2 linked regions of the Homo sapiens genome follow. The protein of the gene in region 2 interacts with the protein of the main gene of each other region in a biochemical or structural test. Each region holds a gene or a part of one and is shown on either strand. Other genes may lie near its edges.

What was found.
Region 1: the proteins of TARBP2 (region 2) and TOP1 interact in a test that uses a peptide from one of them, tested with the Homo sapiens proteins (one study listed by BioGRID).

What each region holds. Positions count from the first base shown.
Region 1 is NC_000020.11:41,108,750-41,116,050, reverse strand, and holds part of TOP1 (DNA topoisomerase 1), read right to left. Parts: intron 3,270-7,301; coding exon 3,126-3,269; intron 2,082-3,125; coding exon 1,896-2,081; intron 681-1,895; coding exon 612-680; intron 1-611. UniProt on the Homo sapiens protein: Releases the supercoiling and torsional tension of DNA introduced during the DNA replication and transcription by transiently cleaving and rejoining one strand of the DNA duplex.
Region 2 is NC_000012.12:53,504,283-53,507,232, forward strand, and holds the end of TARBP2 (RISC-loading complex subunit TARBP2), read left to right. Parts: intron 1-114; coding exon 115-187; intron 188-415; coding exon 416-533; intron 534-852; coding exon 853-980; intron 981-1,366; coding exon 1,367-1,568; intron 1,569-1,708; coding exon 1,709-1,866; 3' UTR 1,867-2,149; downstream 2,150-2,950. Other genes in the region: NPFF (pro-FMRFamide-related neuropeptide FF), read right to left, coding at 2,494-2,611, 2,739-2,950; ATF7-NPFF readthrough protein, read right to left, coding at 2,576-2,611, 2,739-2,860. UniProt on the Homo sapiens protein: Required for formation of the RNA induced silencing complex (RISC). Component of the RISC loading complex (RLC), also known as the micro-RNA (miRNA) loading complex (miRLC), which is composed of DICER1, AGO2 and TARBP2.

The sequences.
Region 1 (7,301 bases), on a different chromosome or scaffold from region 2:
ACCCAGCCTGGAGTGCAGTGGTACAATCTCGGTTCACTGCTGCCTCCACCTCCCGGGCTCATGCAATCCTTCTGAGGCTCCTAAGCAGCTGGGACTACAGGTGTGGACTACCACACCTGGATAATGGTTTTGCCATGTTGCCCAGGCTGGTCTCAAACTCCTGACCTCAAGGGATCTGCCCTACTTGACCTCTCAAAGTGCTGGGATAACAGGCGTAAGCCACCAAGCCTGGCCCAGGTTGGTGGGCTTAACAAACCAATAAAGCAAATTTTTCCTTCCCTATTAAGATATCAGGGACAGGTTTTGGGTCTCCAGCAGGGGTGGCTGGGCATTCAGTGAAGGGAAAGCTCTGCAGGAGCAGGGAAGGATAAAAGGTAGGGCTCATCTACCCCCCACCCTGAGTGCTTTAGCAGTTGTTCTGCAGCAGATGTGTCTTCTCTTGACTACAGATTCACCGTGGACTCAGAGGGAGGAAGAGAGAGTGTATGGGATGCCACAGAGCAGGCCAGGCTAAAGGGAGAGCCCAAGTCATCTGCCAGCAACCCTCCCCTTTAGGTACTGTGAGGCTCTGGCTGGGACTCCCTTCAACATTGTGTGCTTCATCTACTCACATTGAGTCTATCAAAAAGATCATCCTCGGGCTGCTTGTTCTCCATAAATAGTTGTAGGTTCTTAAAAACCTAAAAGATATAAGTGAATCCTAATTATTACTCTTGAAAAAAATCCTAACTTTAGAAATAACCCCAAACTTAAAGAAACTTGCAAAGAAAAAGGCACAAGGAACACGCATACATCCGTCACCGAGATTCACTGTTAACATTTTACCCCATTCATCATTTGCACAGTGTGCATGTATGCTCACTCTCTCCATGTGTATATTTACAGATATATATACATAATTGTTTGTTCTGAGCCATTTATAAGCACTTACTTATAATATGGTCCTAAAGTACATTTATAAGTACTTACTTATAATATGGTCCTAAAGTACATTTATAAGTACTTACTTATAATATGGTCCTAAACATTTCAGTGTGTATGTTCTAAAAATAGATATTCCCTTACATTTACACAGTATCAGCTTCAAAAATTTACATTGATACATACTGTTATCTAATCTGTCCAGAGTACTTCCACAGCCAGCAAAACCTGATTACTGATTATGGTGTCCTTATGAGAAGAGGTGTCTTTATAAGAAGAGGACTGCTGGTGGGCTGGATTATTAGGATCCTGCACACTGTAAGTCTCTGGTTCAAGCCCAATACTATGGAAAAGATTAGGTTGGGACTACAGAGCTATAGTACCCTCTTCAGTGATGGGCTCAGAGATCTGGGGACTAACATTAACCTTTCACTCAGTCAGGAGTTGGAGAAAGGCTGAGCAAAGATGAAAAGTGACAAATGTACCACATGACCAGGGGATACTAAGATATAGTTAAATCATATGCTGAGTTTGCTCTAAGGGCCTATTCTACAGCATGCTCCATTGAATACTGCTATAGGAGAAGGCCACTCCTTACCAGGAAGGTAGCACAGGGCGGAACAGTGACTAAAAGGAGGTACACAAGATATCAAATAATACCTCTCCCCTCTTTCAAGTCATTTATTTTTATTTATTTTAATATGAGAGGCAAGGTCTCACTATTTTGCCCAGGCTGGAGTACAGTGGCTATTCACAGGTGTGATCACAGCACACTACAGCCTCAAACTTTTGGTCTCCAGTGATCCTCCTGTCTCAGCCTTCTGAATAGCTGGGTCTACAGGCATGTGCCATGTTGCCTGTCTCAAGTCACTTTTGCTGGTGCCCAGCAAAGTGCAAAGCACACAAAAAAGCAGTCAACCCATGCTTGTTGAATAATGGAAAACAAGTCAGACAGTACAGGTACATTAACTTACTCGTTTCTCAACAGGGACCTTGTTATAGTATCTGATGGAGTCCTTCCCGAGGAAGTCAAACTCTACCACATATTCCTGACCATCCAACTCTGGGTGTAGATTGATGTGCTCCACACGAAGTGAGCAGCAGCCCACAGTGTCCGCTGTTTCTCCTTCCTCCTTTTCATTGCCTGCTCTCAGAGCAAGCTGCCCAGGAAAGAAAGAAAAGATGAGCATGAATGGAAGAGACATGATCCTTACACAATTTCGTTCTGTGTTTTTTTTTTTTTTTTTTTTGAGACAGTCTCGCTCTGTCGCCAGGCTAGAGTGCAATGGCGCAATTTTGGCTCACTGCAAGCTCCGTCTCCCGGGTTCATGCCATTCTCCTGCCTCAGCCTCCGAAGTAGCTGGGACTACAGGCGCCCGCCACCACGCCAATTTTTATTTTTTTTTTTTTTTTTGTATTTTTAGTAGAGATGGGGTTTCACCACATTGGCCAGGATGGTCTCTTGACCTCGTGTTCCACCTGCCTTGGCCTCCCAAAGTGCTGGGATTACAGGCGTGAGCCACTGCGCCCAGCCTTTTGACCCTTATGCAATTTCTAGGCATCCAAAACAGAAGCCTCCCAATTCTGTTTGAAGCCACAGCATCAGTCAGCATGGCCTGGGAACTCTGGATTCTGCAGTGTTACTTCCTCCCCCACTCACTATGAAATCTATAGGGATGTTAAATATTCATGCTCCTTTTCTTTCTATTCTGTCCTCTGAAATAGGGATGGAGAAAAGGAAAAAAAAAATTAAATAAGGCAGCAAATGAGGGAGTGCTGCTACTCTGGGCAATCAAACTCAAAAAGCTAGTGTGAATTTTGAGACAATTCAGAACTTATGTTAAAATACAAGACTGGGGGAAAAACATGAACTTTTTTTTCTTCTCGTGAGTACCAAGAAATTGATCTCCTCTAGAGCGTGGTCTTTAAAACTATATAATGGTGATACCTGCATGGTTTATTTAAACAATTTTATAAGTTATAACCAACTTTCTAAAGGAATGAAATAGAGTTAAAAAAAGATCAGAATCTACTGCTCACAGTAAGGCTAAGCATTGTTTTGTGCAACTTTTGATTCAGTTTTACATACAAATATATGTATGTTGAGTTGTGATATACAGTATGTGGCACAGGGCCTGGGGCAGAGCAGAAACTCCCTTTGTTAAGCTCAACACTAGACAATGCCGATGGGAAGATGCTCTCACCTTGTCGATGAAGTACAGGGCTACAGCTCTCTGCCGGACTTTCATCTCTTTGGACTTCCAGTCTTCTCGATACTGGTTCCGGATCTTGTCCACACATTTTTTCAGCCGCCGAGCAGTCTCGTATTTCTGCCAGTCCTTCTCACCCTGTAAAGACCCAAACCCAAATGTAGATTACTTTGGGACAGTGTAGTAAAGACAGACTTTGAATATAGCCAGGCAAGGTGGCGCAAGCCTATAATCCCAGCTAGCTAATAGGGAGGCTAAGACACAAGAATTGCTTGAACGCAGGAGGCAGAGGTTGCAGTGAGCCAAGATCACGCCACTGCACTCCACCATGGGTGACAAAGCAAGACTTTGAACAAAAGAGCAGGAACTTGACCTTAAGCAAACGTAAAAAAGAATAGTACTGAAGAGAGAGTTTGGCACATTTAACCTGTTAAGAATGCACATTGTCCCATCTCACTGCCAAGCACAACTGACTTCTAAGGCTTTCCCAGAAGAAAGTTTCTAGCTCTAATTCTCTAAAATGTTTATGTTCCTGGGAAAAACCCACATGGGATGTCCCAAAAACTAACTTCTGTCAACACAAAGCACATAATCACCCCCATTCCCACATCAATTTCACAGCCTTGCTGCCAACTCTGTGACCCAATAGCAGTTTTCTACCAGGACTGAATTCCATTAAATCTAAGTGAATTCCATTAAATTACAGTGTGGTGGAGCTGTCAAAGAAGCAGAACCAAAGACTACAACATGTAATTACTAAGGACACAATGACTTCCAGGAACAGCCATAATTATTCACCATTTTCTAACTTCTGCATTTAAAAGCATTTCTTGATGAGATTGAGAGAAACTATGTTTCTGGGAAGCCTTTAAAAAAATAAGAGCTTTTGGTGGAAGGGTTAAAAGTTGATTCTAAACCCAATGAAGGGTTACTAAAACCATGTGAAAACTGAATCTAAACAATAGTGAAGAAGACTTCTGCTACCAAGCTGAATGAAAATAGACTCACAAGCAAGAGCCAATTATGACAAGTGAGAAGGGGAAAAAAATTCAAGAAATCCAGAAGCAGGGAATTACATAAAACAGCATAAAACAGACTAGATGACATAAACATAGAGAAGGAATTTAAGAATCCAAGAATCTCTGCTCTTAATTTCCCCACCCGCAACAAAGGAAAGTGGTAGTGATTTCTGCCCACACATGCCTGGTTCCTGACTATGACGTGGACCCGTGGTCCTTGAGACATAAGACCTGTGGTGAAGATAACCAGCCTTTCAGCCTGGGCAACAGAGCATGACCCTATCAAAAAAAAAAAAAAGGGGGCGGGGGGTGGGGTGGGGGCGCAACCAGCCTTCTGGGTGTGCAGAAGCATGAGATACCTAGAGCAAGAATGTCTTCCACTTCTCAATCCTAAAAGTACTCAGAAATTAAAAGCTTACACAGTTAAGCTAAGGAGTCATCTGCACTCTCACATCATGTGTACCAGTGTTATGCACTTGTTTGGCTACAAGAGTTTCAGTAACTACCTGCTATCATGGGTGGGTGATTTAGTAGTTGGTGACACAGAAAAAATACCTAAGTCTTAGTACATTTTGACATTTAACAGGGTGAATAAGAAAAGGTGAGATATAAGCTGTCCTCATGCACAAGTCAGTAGTAAATCTCCATGACAACTGTTCTTACACATGCACGGAAAAATTGGACACAAAAGGCTCACCTTCAACAGTAGAGTACCCAACTCTGGAGTGGCCTCTTTCCCCTCACTCTAGTGCACATGGACTACCAAAGCCTGTCTCAAAGTCCCCTAGGGTTACGTTTGCTCAGTTCCTTAGTCACACCACTGGAATGTAAGGTAGGAGTCAGGTAAACGAGATTTAGAAAAACCCAACCCGCACGTCATTCACAGGATACTACCAGACCAACTTTTCTTCACAGGCTGGCTGGGCTTCTGCACCAAGGATCTAGGATTCTCTCAAATAAGCTGAGATGGAGGTGGAGGCAGAAGCCACCCCGCTTAGATCCAGCAGGAGATGGCTGGCCTCCAAGAAGTATGCTTGTCCCTGCAGTGTTCAATGCCCTGAACAAGCTTTCTTGACTACTTTTAGAAAATAAACTATCCACCTAGGTCTTCCAGGCAAGGTCTCACAAAACCATCTCAAGAAGACAAGGAATCCACTGGAGAAGGCTGCCTTTGACCACCTCTCCTCTTTCCCTAATTCAATCACACTTCAGTAATGGGTAAAAATCTAATTTAACTGATTGTAGATGACATTCTTTGGATGACTTTTTAAAACTAGTAGGCCCACTATATTGTCTCTCTAATATAGCTGCTATCCATTCAGCAGAGTGGTTGGGTGGAATCAGGATCTGGATTCAAGATTACAAAGTTGGGGGTGAGAAGGCAAATTGGATTCTGTTTTCTAGTAACTTTCTCAGACGTTTGTAATGGGGAAGAGGACATTTGCCAGTATTCTTACATGACTATTTCCCTTCTCAGTCAATTTCCACCAAGCAACCACTGATCCTTCAATCTGATTACTATCATCATGGATAAATTTTGCCTAGTCTAGATTATATAAATAGAATCATACAATATAGACTCCTCTGTCTGCCTTTTTAACTTTTTTTTTTCCCTCTGAGACAGCGTCTCGCTCTGTCACCAGGCTGGAGTACAGTGATGCAATCTCGGCTCAGTGCAACCTCTACCCCTCAGGTTCAAGCGATTCCCATGTCTCAGCCTCCTGAATAGCTGAGATTACAGGTGTGCGCCACCCTCGGCTAATTTTTGTATTTTTTTGTAGAGACGGTGTTTCGCCATGTTGGCCAGGCTGGTCTCGAACTCCTGACCTGAAGTGATCCACCCGCCTTGGCCTCCCAGAGTGCTTGGATTACAGGCATGCACCAACCGCACCTGGCCCTTAACCATGTTTTTAAGATTCATCCATGTTGTTGAATACATAAGTAGTTCCCTTCTTAACTGCTGATAAATATAGTATATTCTATGACTATACCATAATGTGTTATCTATTCTGGGATGTTTCCAGTTTTGCACTCTTATGAATAGAGCACTGCTATGAACATTCTTGTACAAGTTTTTTCATGGATAAATGTTTTTATTTCACTTGAGGTAAAAATACCTAGAACTGGAATTCGTATCTCCCTGTGGTTAAATCTTCACTCCACTGATAATTAGTGATGTCGAGCACTCTTTCATTTGCTTATTTATTGACCATTCCTGTATCTTCTTTTGTATAGTATATGTTCAAGTCTTTTGCTCTTTTTATTATGCGGATGGGATGTCTGTTTTTTTATTATGGAGCTACAGGAATTCTTTGTATAGTCTGGATATAAGCCCTTTCAGATAAACATGTTGCAAATATTTTCTTTTAGTCTGTAAATTCTGTATTTATTTTAGCAGTGTCTTTTGTTGAACATAAATTTTTAATTTTAATGAAGTCCATTTAGTCAATTGTTTCTCTTGTTGGTGTTTTTCTGTCCTAAGGAATCTACTCTAAGGTCATATTCAACCATGATATCACCTACAAGCTTTAATATTTTAGTCTTCACACTTAGGTCTATGTTAGTCTTACTAATAAATAGATTTAAAACGTTTTGAATTTTATACCAAGATGCCAGGCTCAGAATATATATATATTTTTAATGAGCTTGTGTCTTATTTTCTCTAATAGAACTCACCAAAATGAGAGCTTCCCAAGATGAATATTGTAAAGATACTTTCCTTCACATTTAGCCCTTTAATCCCTAGGTGGTTACATATAAAAGGTTGTAAGCACATACATTTTTGGAACCCCACAGAATTCTAGACTCTAAAGAGAAAAAAGGCAGAAGTGTGTATTTGGCACTGAGAGTATTTTAACAGGACTAAACGCAATACGATGTCAACATTGATCCTAAAGTTTGCTGTACTGCATTTGAAAGAAAAATCATGATGATAAATTCTGTTTGTAAGGTTAAGGCTGGTTTGAAAAAACCTGAATTTTACTAAGGGCTACTTTCCCTGGGTTGTGAGAGCAGGTAATGCTTCCAAACTTGGCAGTGGATTGTACTTAGCAGTGAGTACCCATAAGCAGCCTTTTTGTAAACTCCTAGATTATGCAGGATAAGAAACTCCTGGGTTATCTGGAATCAGAGTTTCTTTGGTTGAAACTGC
Region 2 (2,950 bases):
GTGGAATCGGGAGATGGTAGTCAGGAATCTAAAGTAGTGGTTAGGTTTGGAGCTCATGGGCAGGCTCAGATGGAACCCTTCACCTCAACTTTGGCCCTGTGCCTTTTCCTTCAGGAGCCCCCCCATGGAACTGCAGCCCCCTGTCTCCCCTCAGCAGTCTGAGTGCAACCCCGTTGGTGCTCTGCAGGTGTGTCCCATCCTCATTTCCCATGCATGCCTGTCTTCCCTTGAGCCAGGGGCCATGAGGGAAGGCTATGTGTGTTTGGGGGTGGGGGCGGTTCCTTGTACTGAGGCCCTTTCCACCCCCCTCTCTCCTTCCTCTCACCTAGAGTCTGAGGCTCCTGCGTGGGGACCAGCGTGGGTGTGAGAAGCCTTTTTTCACTCAGCCTCATGCACCCTGTGTCTCCCTTCCAAGGAGCTGGTGGTGCAGAAAGGCTGGCGGTTGCCGGAGTACACAGTGACCCAGGAGTCTGGGCCAGCCCACCGCAAAGAATTCACCATGACCTGTCGAGTGGAGCGTTTCATTGAGATTGGTAACTGGGCAAGAAGGGGTTCTCACAACTCCTCTCCCGCAGCACTCTGGCCCCAGCCACAAAGCAGCTCCTGGCCTCACTCTGCTACACCCCCTGCTCTCTTAGCTTCACAGTCCCTAGCTCAGCCCCTTCCTTTTAGCTTCTTGGCACCCTATTTGTCCCCTTCTCTCTGGCTGACCAGGTTCTCACGTGCATGGGCAGGTCTTGAGTTCCCCTTTCCAGTTGACATTCTGGGGGGACCCTCAATCCAAGTATGACCTGGGTGGAAGCACTGGGTCTGTGGGGAATCATAACCCAGCAGCCCTCTCTCCACATGCAGGGAGTGGCACTTCCAAAAAATTGGCAAAGCGGAATGCGGCGGCCAAAATGCTGCTTCGAGTGCACACGGTGCCTCTGGATGCCCGGGATGGCAATGAGGTGGAGCCTGATGATGACCACTTCTCCATTGTGAGTGGCTCATGTGGGCCGGGCACCGTGGCCCATCCTCCATGCCAGGGCAGGGCTCCAGGGACTTGGGTCTGTGACTCAGCAGTGAGCCTCTCTGGGCCCTAGGTCTGCTTCTGCCACAGTTTTCCTACCAGACCCAGGGTTCCTGGGGCCGACTCAGCCTTGACTGTAGGCCCGCTCTGTAGCTCTGTTACTGGGGTGAGGAGGGATCCCTGGCCATCTGGCCCAGGGCCTGGTAGTTAGAAGGGGCCACCCAGGGATTGACTGGGGGGAGGCAAGCTGGAGGAAGCATTCTTTGTGCTTTGTTCTCCTTTGACGTTGAATGTCTCAATGCCTGGGTCCCACAGTCTCTCGCTTCATCTTTCTCACTGTTCCCATCTTGACAGGGTGTGGGCTCCCGCCTGGATGGTCTTCGAAACCGGGGCCCAGGTTGCACCTGGGATTCTCTACGAAATTCAGTAGGAGAGAAGATCCTGTCCCTCCGCAGTTGCTCCCTGGGCTCCCTGGGTGCCCTGGGCCCTGCCTGCTGCCGTGTCCTCAGTGAGCTCTCTGAGGAGCAGGCCTTTCACGTCAGCTACCTGGATATTGGTATGGCTAGCTGGGGAGCGAGCCAGGGGATGGTGGGGGCTGGACCGGAGCAAGTAGAAGGGGGTGATGATAACGTGAACGCACCCCTCCCCAGGGCTACCTCCCCCAACATTGCCTCCCTCCTCTCTCTTGCTCTCCAGAGGAGCTGAGCCTGAGTGGACTCTGCCAGTGCCTGGTGGAACTGTCCACCCAGCCGGCCACTGTGTGTCATGGCTCTGCAACCACCAGGGAGGCAGCCCGTGGTGAGGCTGCCCGCCGTGCCCTGCAGTACCTCAAGATCATGGCAGGCAGCAAGTGAAGCCCCAGCTGGACTCATGGATGTGCACCCTTTGCTCCCTGCTCTTTCTGCCTCTGGGCTCATGTATCTGCGCAGCTCTGGTACCCTCTGTGGGTGCCATCTCTACCTCTGACACAGACTGCCTGCCTTGAAGCTGAGAAGGCACAGGGCAAGGAGCCAAGGACCACAGAGCCTCAGCCAGCCCAGGATCCGTCCTCATTTTATTGGTGATGATGAATGGGAATGAAATCAGGGGGCTGTCTACTAGAGCCTGGAATAAATATGCTGCTTTGTGGATTTTTAAGCCCTTCTCTTCTGTTTCCTTGAGCAGTGTGGATAGCAGAGGAGGTCACCACATTACTTTTGTGTGCCTTCCCTGAGCTCCTGTTCCAGCCATTCTCCTGTTTTCCTTTCTGGTGGGAGGAGGCTGGGCACAGTGGCCTCGTGGAATGTTGTCGGCTGCCTTGCTGGAGGGCTGGGTTTGGTGGAGGGGAAGGGCAGTGGTTCTTGCCCTTGGGCTTCCACCCAGCCCTGTAAAGTCTCACACAGACACACATGGATTCAGAAGCCAGACAATTTTATTTGGGGGGCAAACATTGACACTTTTGGGTGTGGACCTTGCATGCAGACATATCAAGGGATGACATGTCACTTCTTCCCAAAGCGTTGAGGGGCAGCCAGGCTCCAGAACTGGGAATTCAGCCCCTCTCCAGCCCGGGGACTCAGCCATTCATTCCTCCAGGATCCCTGGGTATTTCTGCCAAACCTTAGGAAAGATTTGTCCTCAGGTCCCCGCAGTCTCCCTTCTCTAGCCCCCTTCCTTCTCCTCTTCCTCTGCCTCCTGCCCTTTCCACCCCCAGCCCCTGCCATGCTTGTGTCCCTTTCAGACTCACCTCTGGGGCTGAAACAGGAAGGCTTGGCTCCGGCCAGGTCTCTCCATTGCCTGGAGCAGGTAGTGCAACAGTGACCCAGAGGTCTGGGCATCCTGTGGTGGGAGGGGTTCGCTGTCTTCCTCCTGTGCCAAGGGGGTATCAGGGAAGGAAGATGGGCAAATACCCTGGACACGTAAGTCACAAGGGGAAGGGACTGGCTTCCAGGGGCAAGT